Linked DNA regions of Homo sapiens: region 2 is linked to region 1. The links come from fine-mapping of genetic effects on gene expression. A gene starts in region 1. The other region holds a variant in brackets. All regions are shown on one strand. Distances are between the middles of the regions.

Evidence for each region. PIP is the estimated chance that this variant, and not a neighbour inherited with it, causes the effect. A credible set is the group of variants that fine-mapping cannot tell apart.
Region 2: its variant is the best candidate, but not a certain one, in a credible set for the expression of SMC5 in whole blood (INTERVAL, PIP 0.83).

What each region holds. Positions count from the first base shown.
Region 1 is chr9:70,256,470-70,261,852 of GRCh38, reverse strand. It overlaps SMC5 (structural maintenance of chromosomes 5), which reads right to left and starts at 2,875. Exons shown (of 25, transcript NM_015110.4): 1 at 2,590-2,875. The coding sequence starts at 2,774. SMC5-DT (SMC5 divergent transcript) reads left to right here and starts at 2,979. Exons shown (of 4, transcript NR_039990.1): 1 at 2,979-3,457; 2 at 3,918-3,938. RefSeq lists enhancers at 2,589-2,788, 3,119-3,308 and a silencer at 2,829-3,048.
Region 2 is chr9:70,221,950-70,227,332 of GRCh38, reverse strand. It overlaps MAMDC2 (MAM domain containing 2), which reads right to left. Exons shown (of 14, transcript NM_153267.5): 13 at 1,499-1,583; 14 at 361-1,365. The coding sequence ends at 1,301. All of the region lies in intron 3 of SMC5-DT (SMC5 divergent transcript), which reads left to right. Among named protein-coding and RNA genes, the nearest start is that of SMC5-DT, 34 kb to the left of the region's middle. The variant T/A (reference allele first, on the strand shown) is at 2,463.

The DNA.
Region 1 (5,383 bases):
TTTCCTTGGCTTCTTTGATAATTGTCTCCCACTGTTTTCATCTTACCTCCCTGAATAGTTCCTTCTGACTTTGAGTCCTTCTTCAGTTCACCCTTAATGTAGGCATTCTCCCAAGACTCTGTACATGGTCTTCTAGTTCTTCAATTCATAATTCCTATTGGGCAATCATAACCAGTTCTGCAACTTCATCAATCACCTGTATGCATGACTCCCAAAACTCTCATCTGTTCATATTTTCCTCTAAGCTCCAGACTCCTACATTCTGCCTATAGAACATCTCTCTTAGATGCCACAAAGGAAACTTTAAGTCACAGGATCTAAGAGGCATTTATTATTCTCCTCAAACTGCTCCCTCTTCTGAATAGCACCTGATCAATTAGCTAAGGCTCTTACACTTGGGAAAAATGCTGCATTCCTCCCTTTCCCCCATGCCTCACAACTATTCTGTAGCTGGATCCTGTCAAATCTCATTCCTTCACACTCTGATCATCTCTTGCCTTCGTATTGTCTTTTTGCTTCCAATCTTGCACCCTTTCTAAATCATCCTCTACAGTGCTTCCAGAATAACACAGAACACACGTCATTCCCTGTTGAAAACACACCGTGGCTGCCTACAGGATGATGTCGGAACTTCTTAGCATAGTAAACATACAGGCCCCTGAATGGTTGCTTACCCTTTGTCCAAATACTCATTCACATCCTATATTCTTGCCTTACTAAAATACTTGACGCTTTCTAAATATACCAAACTATTTCAGACAGTTCCTTCTGTCTTCAATGCTCTTCACTTCTTGCAAGACTTTCCTATCTTCTTAGGCGGGTGCAGTGGCTCATGTCTGTAATCCCAGCACTTTGGGAGGCCGAGGTGAGTTTCTTGAGCCCAGAAGTTCGAAACTAGCCTGGGCAACATGGTGAAACCCCATCTCTACAAAAAAATTTTAAAACATTAGCCAGGTATGGTACGCGCCTATAGTCCGAGCTACTTGAAAGGCTGAGGTAGGAGGATCACTTGAGAAGGGGAGGTCCAGGCTTCACGGAGCCCTGATCATGCCACTGAGCTCCAGCGTGGGCAACAGAGCAAGACCAAAGACTTTCATATCTTCTTTACAAAGCCCTTTCTCATACTCGTAGACAAAACTAACCACTTCATCCTTTGTGAAGGATCCTGATATATGTTGTTATGGTATCTAACTCATTTGATTACATTTATCTTTCCTGATCTGGATTCAAATAGCAATGCAACTATGTAACAGCTGCGTAAAACTGGGCAAAATAACCTACTGAGCTTCTTTCAGCAATGGAAATTATCAAGATAGAGTTGTTATGAAGAAAGAATGAGTGCACTATGTACCTGGCACACAATAGGTGCTTGAAAAAAAAAGGTAGTATTGTTATTACAATTCTGTTATCCTTATGCCACTATGTGCAAGCTTTAAAAAGACTTCCGGCCGGACATGGTGGCTCACGCCTGTAATCCCAGCACTACGGGAGGCCGAGGCGGGCAGATCACCTGAGGTCAAAAGTTCCAGATCAGCCTGGTCAACACGGTGAAACCGCGAGTCTACTAAAATACAAAAAAAAATAGCTGGGCGTGGTGGCGGCTGGCTGTAATCCCAGCTACGCGGGAGGCTGAGGCAGGAGAATTGATTGAAACTGGGAGGCGGAGGTTGCAGTGAGCCGAGATTGCGCCACTACCTTCCAGCCCGGACGACAGTATGACACTCCGTCTCAAAAACAAAAACTAGCCGGGCGTGGTGGCGCGCGCCTGTAGTCCCAGCTACTCGGGAGGCTGACCCAGAAGAATCGCTTGAAACCGAGAGGCGGAAGTTGCAGTGGGCCGAGATCGCGGCACAGCACTCCATCCAGCGTGGGCTACAGGAGCGCAACTCCGTCTCAAAAAAAAAGAGGAAAAAAAAAAAAAAAAAGACCTGGAACAAATGAACTGGAAGGTGCTAGGCAAATACATGATATATTTAAAACTTACTAAATTCTAAAGCGGTAACTAGTTGTCTGAAGGGGAGAGGGAGGAACCAGGGAAGAAAACTGGGTTTAGTGGGGTCAAGGGTTTGTAGGGAGGTCCAACAATTGCCAGTAAGTGTTTAATTTTTTTGTACCTGTAACCTCCATTCCCGAACAACCTTTACCGTCTTATCTACTCCTCTCTGGCAAATGCCTACCCTAAGAATCCGCCACAGCATCACTATCACGCCGAATTAACTGTTGCCTCCTCTTAAGTTCCCGGGGACAATACTTCTGTGAATTCCAGACCAGGGCCGCTATGGATCGCGACTCCCAGCGGGCAGAGACCTACTCCCTCCTACAACCACTACCTGCTACATGACACCTTTGGAAAACCTTGGCTGACTAAATTTAAAAACCACATCACCCAAGGCACACATCTCCTACATCATACACGTCAATCTCCACAGCCTACGTAGGAAAATCCTCAAGGGAACCCCGGCACGAATTCAAGGCCAGACCCACAAGCCAGGTACACACCCACACGCCCACGCCCGCGCGCTGCCGGAGCCCCGGGGCCTGCTGGCCAGCACACCTCCACACCCGCGGCGCGGCCTCCGGGCAACTTACAGGAAGTTCTCCATCGAGATGCGGACGATAGAGCCTTCCACGAAAGGCCCGGACGACTGCAACAGCGGCAGCTGCGGGGCCGAATTCTTCCTCTTGCTCGGGACCTCCGACGAAGGGTCTCTCGGGAGAGCTCTCTTGGAAGGCTGGGGGCTTGGAGTTGACGTCTTCTTGCTCGGAGTCGCCATCCTGGCTTCCTCAGCGTCCCACAGCGACTTCCGTTCCCACCGTCCGGCAGCCCAGGCGCCCAAGCGCCCATCCACCCAGGCGCCCCGCTCCCGCGCGAACTGCCGCGAACTGTTACCGCGCGCTCGCTCCCGCGATCTCGCGCCGCGCCTGCGCAGTTCAGGTCCGGCGACGTCAGCAGGCCCGCCCCGCCCCTCCCGCGCTCCGCCGCGCTGTGCGAGGCCCAGACTGAGGGCGAAACAGCAGGCAGGACTGGGTGGAGACGTTCGGGGACGTGGCAACTGGAGTTTCTTCTCCGTATATTTCGGCATTCAGTTCCTTTTTTTTTTTGTTTTAACTCAGGAAAAAATCTCAATTGCGTTTAGTATTTTGAAAGCCACTTTATTGCTTCCCGAGCCTCAGTCATGTGTGGTGGGAGGCTGCTGTGGGTGGCACCTGGGGCGTCCACGGCCGCCAAGGCGGGAGGACGTCAGGCCCTGCTTGCTCCCACCCCTTCCAGGTGAGAGCTCCCGGGCACGCCCGTCGTTGGCTCTTCGTCCTCTTGGTGTTCTTCCCTGTTGCTTCAAATCAGGTTCCTGTCTCAAAAATCCGAAAAAGAAATCCTCCCAAATGACTCTGTGCCCGACGCTCCGTTAAGGCATCGTGCTAGGCGTTCTCAAACTCGTGAAATGACTACACTGCACAGGTTAACCTCATTGCTACTCTTCCCCTTGCCTCCTAATTCTCTGGTTAAACTTCCGCCCCCGAGGTTTCTAGAAATCCCTGAGCTGGAATGCGCTGCCTTCATTAAGAGGGTGTTCTGCTTCCGTCTGCTCACATTCATCTAGTAAGCCCTCTCGTTAAAGAGGAGGCAGCACACCGAGGCCTGTCTAGAACTTCTTTCATTTAACCAACAGTGAATATCTAATCTACAAGAAACTGGAGCCGTGGCAGTTTAGGAGCCTGCCAAGGTTGCATCCCTGGGAGCTTATTTTCTATTGTGGGAGACAGGAAAAGAACAAGTGAATCAACTGTGAAATTAAATAATTCAAACTTAAAGCTGTTGGAACTTTAAATTATTCTGAGCCTTGCGAAGAATGTGGCGATGGGGCCTGAGTCCCATGGCATACAGCTGCAATGTCTGCCTTGTTTTTTCCTATAATCAGGAAGACCAAACAGAGACAGAGGTAAGACCCCCTCAGATCACTACCCCCTTCATAAATTAATATAGTTATCTTCCTTGGAATGTAGCTATCTATAACTAATCTAATCGCTGTAATTTATGCACTGCTCTTGTATTGAAAATGTACTCCTGCTGAACCTTCTCTGTTTCTGCCTGTGTAAATGAAACCTTAACTTCACTTTGGAACATTGACCCTATTTGTTTGGAGTTGGTGTTTCCAGGTGGCTGTCCTCAAGCTTTGCGTTAGAATAAACTCTATACTTAATGATATTTTCTGAATTTCACTACTTAAGGCTGACACAACAAATGATTAGCATAATGTCAGACTGTGACAGGTGTTAGGAAGAAAACAAAATGAACCTGATGGGTGGGAGGTACGGAAGGCCTCTTAGAGAGGTGGTGGTGTTTAAGATAAACTCTGAAGGACGAGAAGAAACTGTGACGATCTGAGAAAAGAGCACCCCAGGCAAAAGAATTTTGCTGGAACATACCAGTAAGGACAAAAGCTCTGAGGTGGGAAGGCCAGTGTTGCTGCAGAGCAGTGAACAAGGTTGCAGAGCAGAACCTTGTCCATCGTGGAAAAGCCTGAATTTTATTTTTAAAGCAATGGGAAGCCATTGCAAAGTTTTAAGCAGGAGAGGGCCATGTTCTGACTAAAGCTTTTAATTTTTTTATTTGATTTTTTTTATTTGATTTTTTTGAGACAGAGTCTCACCCAGTCGCCCAGGCTGGAGTGCAGTAGTGCCACCTCAGTTCACTGCAAACTCTGCCTCCCTCGTTCAAGCGGTTCTTCTGCCTCAGCCTCCCGAGTAGCTGGGATTACAGGTGCATGCCACCACACCTGGCTAATTTTTGTATTTTTAGTAGAGACGAGGTTTCACCATTTTGGCCAGGCTGGTCTGTAACTCCTGACCTCAAGTGATCCGCCCACCTCGGTGTCCCGAAGTGCTGGCACTACAGGCATGAGCCACTGTGCCTGGCCTTAAAGTTTTTAAATAATAATTCTGGTTGCTGTGTGGAAAATGGATTAGAGGGCACCAAGTGTGGAAGTGGAAGGCCACTTAGAAAGCTATTGCAGTAGATCCCTGATTCCTGACTCCTAGACCAAAGCTCCTTTCCCAGGTCTCTGCTGCTTCCTCTCACACAAGGACTCCGCTCCAGAGAAAATAGAGTAAGTAAAAAGCATGTGAACTTGTCGTAGTTACTGGAAATTTTCTTAAATGCAAATGAAAATGAGAGAGACGGGAAGGAAAAATCATTGAAAAAATTCAGACTGCAGCAGCAGCCTACCTGAAAAGTCACAGCAACAGGCAAAAAATAAAACAACCTTGGGAAAACCTCAGGTTGCACCTGGACAGATAGACAGCTTTAAGCACAGATAAACAAGCACAGGAGTGGGAGAGTCTCGACTTCATACTCATACAATGGGCCCCAGTAAAAACTGTGAGA
Region 2 (5,383 bases), 35 kb after region 1:
TACTATACCAGACACTTTCTGGGTACTGAGAATACAAAAGTAAACAAAACAGCAAGAAATGTTGTACTCCATGTTAGGATATAGAGTTTACATTCTAATGAGATAAAAAATTGAGATTGTCTATGTGAAATAAAGCATGCTATAAAAATTATTGTATCAGTGGAGTAAAAAGAGGTAAGGGAAAATTAAGAGAAAAAAGTAATAATTATTATATTAATGTATAGAGTGCTTATGTCACTAATAAAAAGGCTTAAGCATTTTGTTGTGGCAGAGTAGAGATTCAAATTAGAATCTGCAGTGTTGTAGTGAAGATACTCTGATAAAGACAAATAATGTAGAAATGAGTTAATTGCTAGTGAAAAGATTTTCAAATTATTTTTATTAGGTAATTTTATAATTTCATAGCAGCTGTTAGGATACACAAACATATATATACAATTTTCTAAACAAGTAAATAAAAGCAGTTTAGTATATCTGCCTGAATTCATATTATTCAAAATCTTACCAAAATATTTATTATAAAAATCAGTAAAATTGTTTAACACATTTATAAAAGTTGCTGGGTATGTATACATAAACATTTTAAGCTTGCTTTACAAAAAAAAGTTAAATTTCTATCCATGTGCTCATAGTGACTTCAAAGGTAGTTCAAAGGGGGAATAAAGAAGGTAGCATTGCCTTGTAATACAGCATTAATTAATACTGACTTACCCTTGGACATTCATGAAAGATCCTTTGTTATCACATATGGTGAAAATATTAAAAATTAATACTCCATTTCTATGAATAAAACATAGAAAATAAGACTTTATTTTTCCAGACTAACTCATTAGCATGAAAGACTGCATTCATTCTGCAGATATTACTGACACCCCGTATTATTTACTTTAAAAATATTTATGATACTTAAAATTCAAAAGGAAACCTGCAAGACCTATTTTTCTCCCAATACATTCACTGAATGCAGATTTAAATGAGTGCATCTCATTTTGATTGTGCCCTTTGTGTACTTTAAAATGACTACAATATAGTACATTTGTATTTTTAACTGGTACCAAAATTAAGATGAATGATCTATGCAAAACCAGTAGCCTGTATTTCTAGTAACAGTTGTCATATGCAAAAAGAAAAAAAGAGCCCTGAGTCAGTATGTTTTTGCAAAAGTAATGAAGGAGGGTGCTCTAAAGTCATTTTATAACTTATAAAATTGTTAAGACTGTCCAGTATTCATTTGCTTTGTTTTCATTTTGATTGAAGAGAGGTATGGTTTTCGTCTAGTAAATCCAATGCAGATCATTTCTTAATACTCAATTTCATTTAAGTCCTCAGAATATCCTGATGATTGTTGAGTTGTATCTTCCATTTCTGTCAGGAAAGACAAATATACAATAACAGTATTTTTATTATAGAAAAATATTTAATTTGTATTCTTGTAGTTTGAGACAGTATCGCAAAGTCCATTTTCAGTCAAGCTTATATGATTGGGAAAAAATATTACCTCCACAGGGTCCTGCCTGAAATTTAACATCATCAATGGCAATATCACTTCTTATTGATACTCCTCGAATGGCTTCAAAAATTATCTGAAAGAATAATATGTTTGAATTTAGAAATAGAATCATCCTGATTACAGTGCTGGTCAGGGCAGATCCAGGCTTTGTAAATATGAAAACGTAGATTGCTCTTGAGGATCCCTTTAAGGAAAAGGATACCAAATTACAAATTGAAATCTAGGTATTAAAGAGAATATTTATTTGGAATTTAAAGAAACACAATAAATTACTGAAGCCTTGAAGATTCAGGTCCCTGTCTTCTGAGATCTCTTTAGGCAATTTCCCAGAAATGCTTGCCTAGAAATGCTTCTTGGTGGTAACCTGGTTTCCTCTTCCCAATTGGAACACTCTTCTCCCAGCATCCCCCAGCACCCACACAGGGTCTGTGAAAGTGAGGGGCTCAGAAATTTAAATTTCCTTTAGCACTCCATAAATCTACCTTTGATACTGCTACGAGGTGGAAAAATTTAATATGACCGATGATACCCATGTGTGAACAGAAAAGCATAATGATGAAGTTTACCAAAGATAATGGTTCACTTATGTTAAATACCATAACATCAAAGACACAGCTCAGGCAGAAGAGAGAATCAGTTTTATAACTTCAGATTCTGAGAAGAAAATAACTGATCAGATATTGTGGTTGTAGGAAAAATAGATTACTTAACCAGCTCTAAGGCTGTCCCAACAATGGTTAACAAATTACTGAATAGTCCAGGGAGGCCCATGGGTAATGAAAGTTGTTCAGAAGACACATTTGCTCTATTCATTTTATAAGCAAGTGAGTCTTCATTGGAGTAGTTTATAATTTAAATAAAAAAGAAAGACCTTAAATTTTATTTAAACCCTCCCTAAAATTAAAGAATATAAATTAAATAATATGTTTATAAAGTTATCTTGAAATTAATG[T/A]TTCAAAGATGCTTCAGTGACAGACTGGTGGCAAAATACTCTTAATAAAAATGCTAAGGATCCAACTCGTGATGGTGGATTTCAGGTGTCAACTTGACTGGGTTAAGGGATACCCACATTGCTGGTAAAGCATTATTTCTCAGTATGTATGTGAGGGTGTTTCTGAAAGAGATTGGCGTTTGAATTGGTGGACTGAGAAAGGAAGATCTGTCCTCACCCAATGTGAGTGGGGACCATCAAATTGGTTGAGGATGCAGATAGAACAAAAAGGCAGAGGAGAAGCAAGTTTGCTCTCTCTTCTGTAACTGGGACACCCGTCTGCTTCTGTCCTTGGACATCAGAACTCTAGGTTCTTCAGTCTTCAGACTTCTGGAATTGTACCAGTGGCACCCTAGGTTCTCAGGCCTTTGGCTGCAGACTAATAGTTATACCATCGGCTTCTCTAGTTCTCAGGCCTTGGGATTTGGACTGAGCTATGGTACCAGCTTTCCTGGTTCTCCAGCTTGTATATAGCAATGGAAACCTTTGCTATATACAATGAGATGCTTGAATATAGCATCTCAGCCTTCATAATTATATGAGCCAATTTCTATAATACATCCCCTTTCATATCTCTCTCACCTTCTGTGTCTGTCTCTCTCTTTCTCCTCTTACTGGTTCGGTTTCTCTGGAGAACACTGATTAATACACAGTGCTAAATAAGAATCCAAATAAGTGGCAAGAAGAGGGAAAAAATGTCCTAACACACCTAGATAAAAGGACACCTGAGTGCACATAATAAGCATTTTGGTTCTCTGAACAACAATAAAATCTGTTTTTTTGGCCTTCAAGTCTGTAATGAAAAGAGTAATAAAATTACCTGAAGGAATTATATTCTGAATAGTCTATGATTTGGCCAGACACTTGATTTTATACAACTTTCTCCTCTGAAATTTCTTAATACAGTAGTGATCACCATTTTATAGTACTATGATTTCCCCCTTGTATTATAAATATGTAGTAATACCTCTTCTTTTTCTACATTGACAATAGGATTAAGCTGACTTATCTTTGCACTTTAAGACTAACCAAATCTATCCAAATCAAATAGCTACTGAGCAAATACTTGTTTATTTAGATAATAGACATAACAAATGTAGGATTAAATAAGATCATATATGTCCTTGGTTCCCAAAGTGTGTGCTGAGGTGCCCCAGGGTGCCCAAGTACATTCATGGGGTGCTGTGGATAGTTTGAAATTTTAAGGGAAACATGGCAATATTCAATACTTAGCAGACACCATGTGAACTGCTAGCTCAATGTCATTCAAAGTTTTAACATGGGATTGTCCTGTATTGCTTTTGATAACATATCTTCATAGAGCTGAGTTTTTTGGTAGCTGCTACAATTAAAAGCAAGCATTGTGTAGAAATCAATGTGGAACATAAAATAAGGGTAGTGTATCCAATCTAATTCCAAGGTTTGGGAAGTTTGTGCCCGACAGGTATATACATTCTATTTGTACATAATTTTGGTTAATAATTAGATAAAATCTTAATTTTTATTTTAAGTATTTTTTCAGATGGCTACTAAGTTGTTAGAACATAAATACTTAAGTTGTTTGAATCCAAATACTTAATATATGAAACTGTTAGGTGTTTCTTCTGGTATTGCGGCACCAAGAAAAAATTACTATGGGCATCATAAACAAGAAAATTTGGAGACCTGAATCTTTTTTTTTTTTTTTTTTTTTTTTTTTGAGACAGAGTCTTGCTCTCAAGCTGGAGTGCAGTGATGCGATATCAGCTCACTGCAACCTCTGCCTCCTGGGCTCAAGTGATCCTCTTGCCTTAGGCGCCTTAGTAGCTGGGGCTACAGGCATGCACCACCAAACCTGGCTAATTTTTGTACTTTTAGAGGAGACAGGGTTTTGCCATGCTGTCCAGGCTGATCTCAAACTCCTGGGCTCAAGAAATCCCCCTACTTCAGCCTCCCAAAGTGCTGGGATTATAGGTGTAAGCCACCGCACCCTGCCAACCTGAGTCTTAGCTGAGTATGCAGTGCATAGAAATTCCTAGTAACTGTTAGGCAGTATAATTAATAATATGACTGATGTAAATATTTCAGTGAGCTGGGAATTTGTATAACACTTTACTTCAATGGCATAAAAATCTAAGAAACCAAGGAGGAAAAGTCATGAAAGCTGGGGAGGAGGGGTAATCAGGGAATCCAAAGGAAATAGAATGATTTTGTGCTTTTGATCAATAGTGAGTCAGTTTCTGCTTAGCACTAATAAATCCCTTAGGAAGGAGCATGATTAAACATTTGCCGTTTGATGCATTTCTTTTTCCCACAGGGATGATCTAATGAGTGGAATGCCTTTAGGAGGCCACCCACATATTTTCCCCATAGGATCAATCTCAAATGGCAGCAGTACTATCACACTCTAAATACCATCTCTACCTGCCCACCCCCATTCAAGCTGTACACATTTACTTCCCTAACTGTGTTCTCTTCCCTGAACTCATCTCATATCCTATTATTTACTTACAACCATTTGGATTTCTAATAGACATAGAAAACTTAACATGTCCCCCCAGAAGTCTATTAATTTTCTTCCTGCACACACTGCCCTCACTCCAGGTCTGCTCTGTCTCAACTCTTCCTCATCTCAATAAATGATATCTCAATTCATTTTAGCAATTGCTCATGCCAAAAGCTTTGGAGTCATCTTGGTGTCTCCCTTTCCCTCAGACTCCACATTCTATACATAAGAAGTCTCGTGGGCTTCTGATGACATCTCCTCACCTCTGCTGCATAGCCTAAGCCATCACTCCTCTTGCCAGGGCTACTGCAGCAGCCCCCAAAGTCTCCTTGTCCCATTGCAGTATACTTTACACGCAGTAGCTGGAGTGATCATTTCAAAATCAGATAATATTACC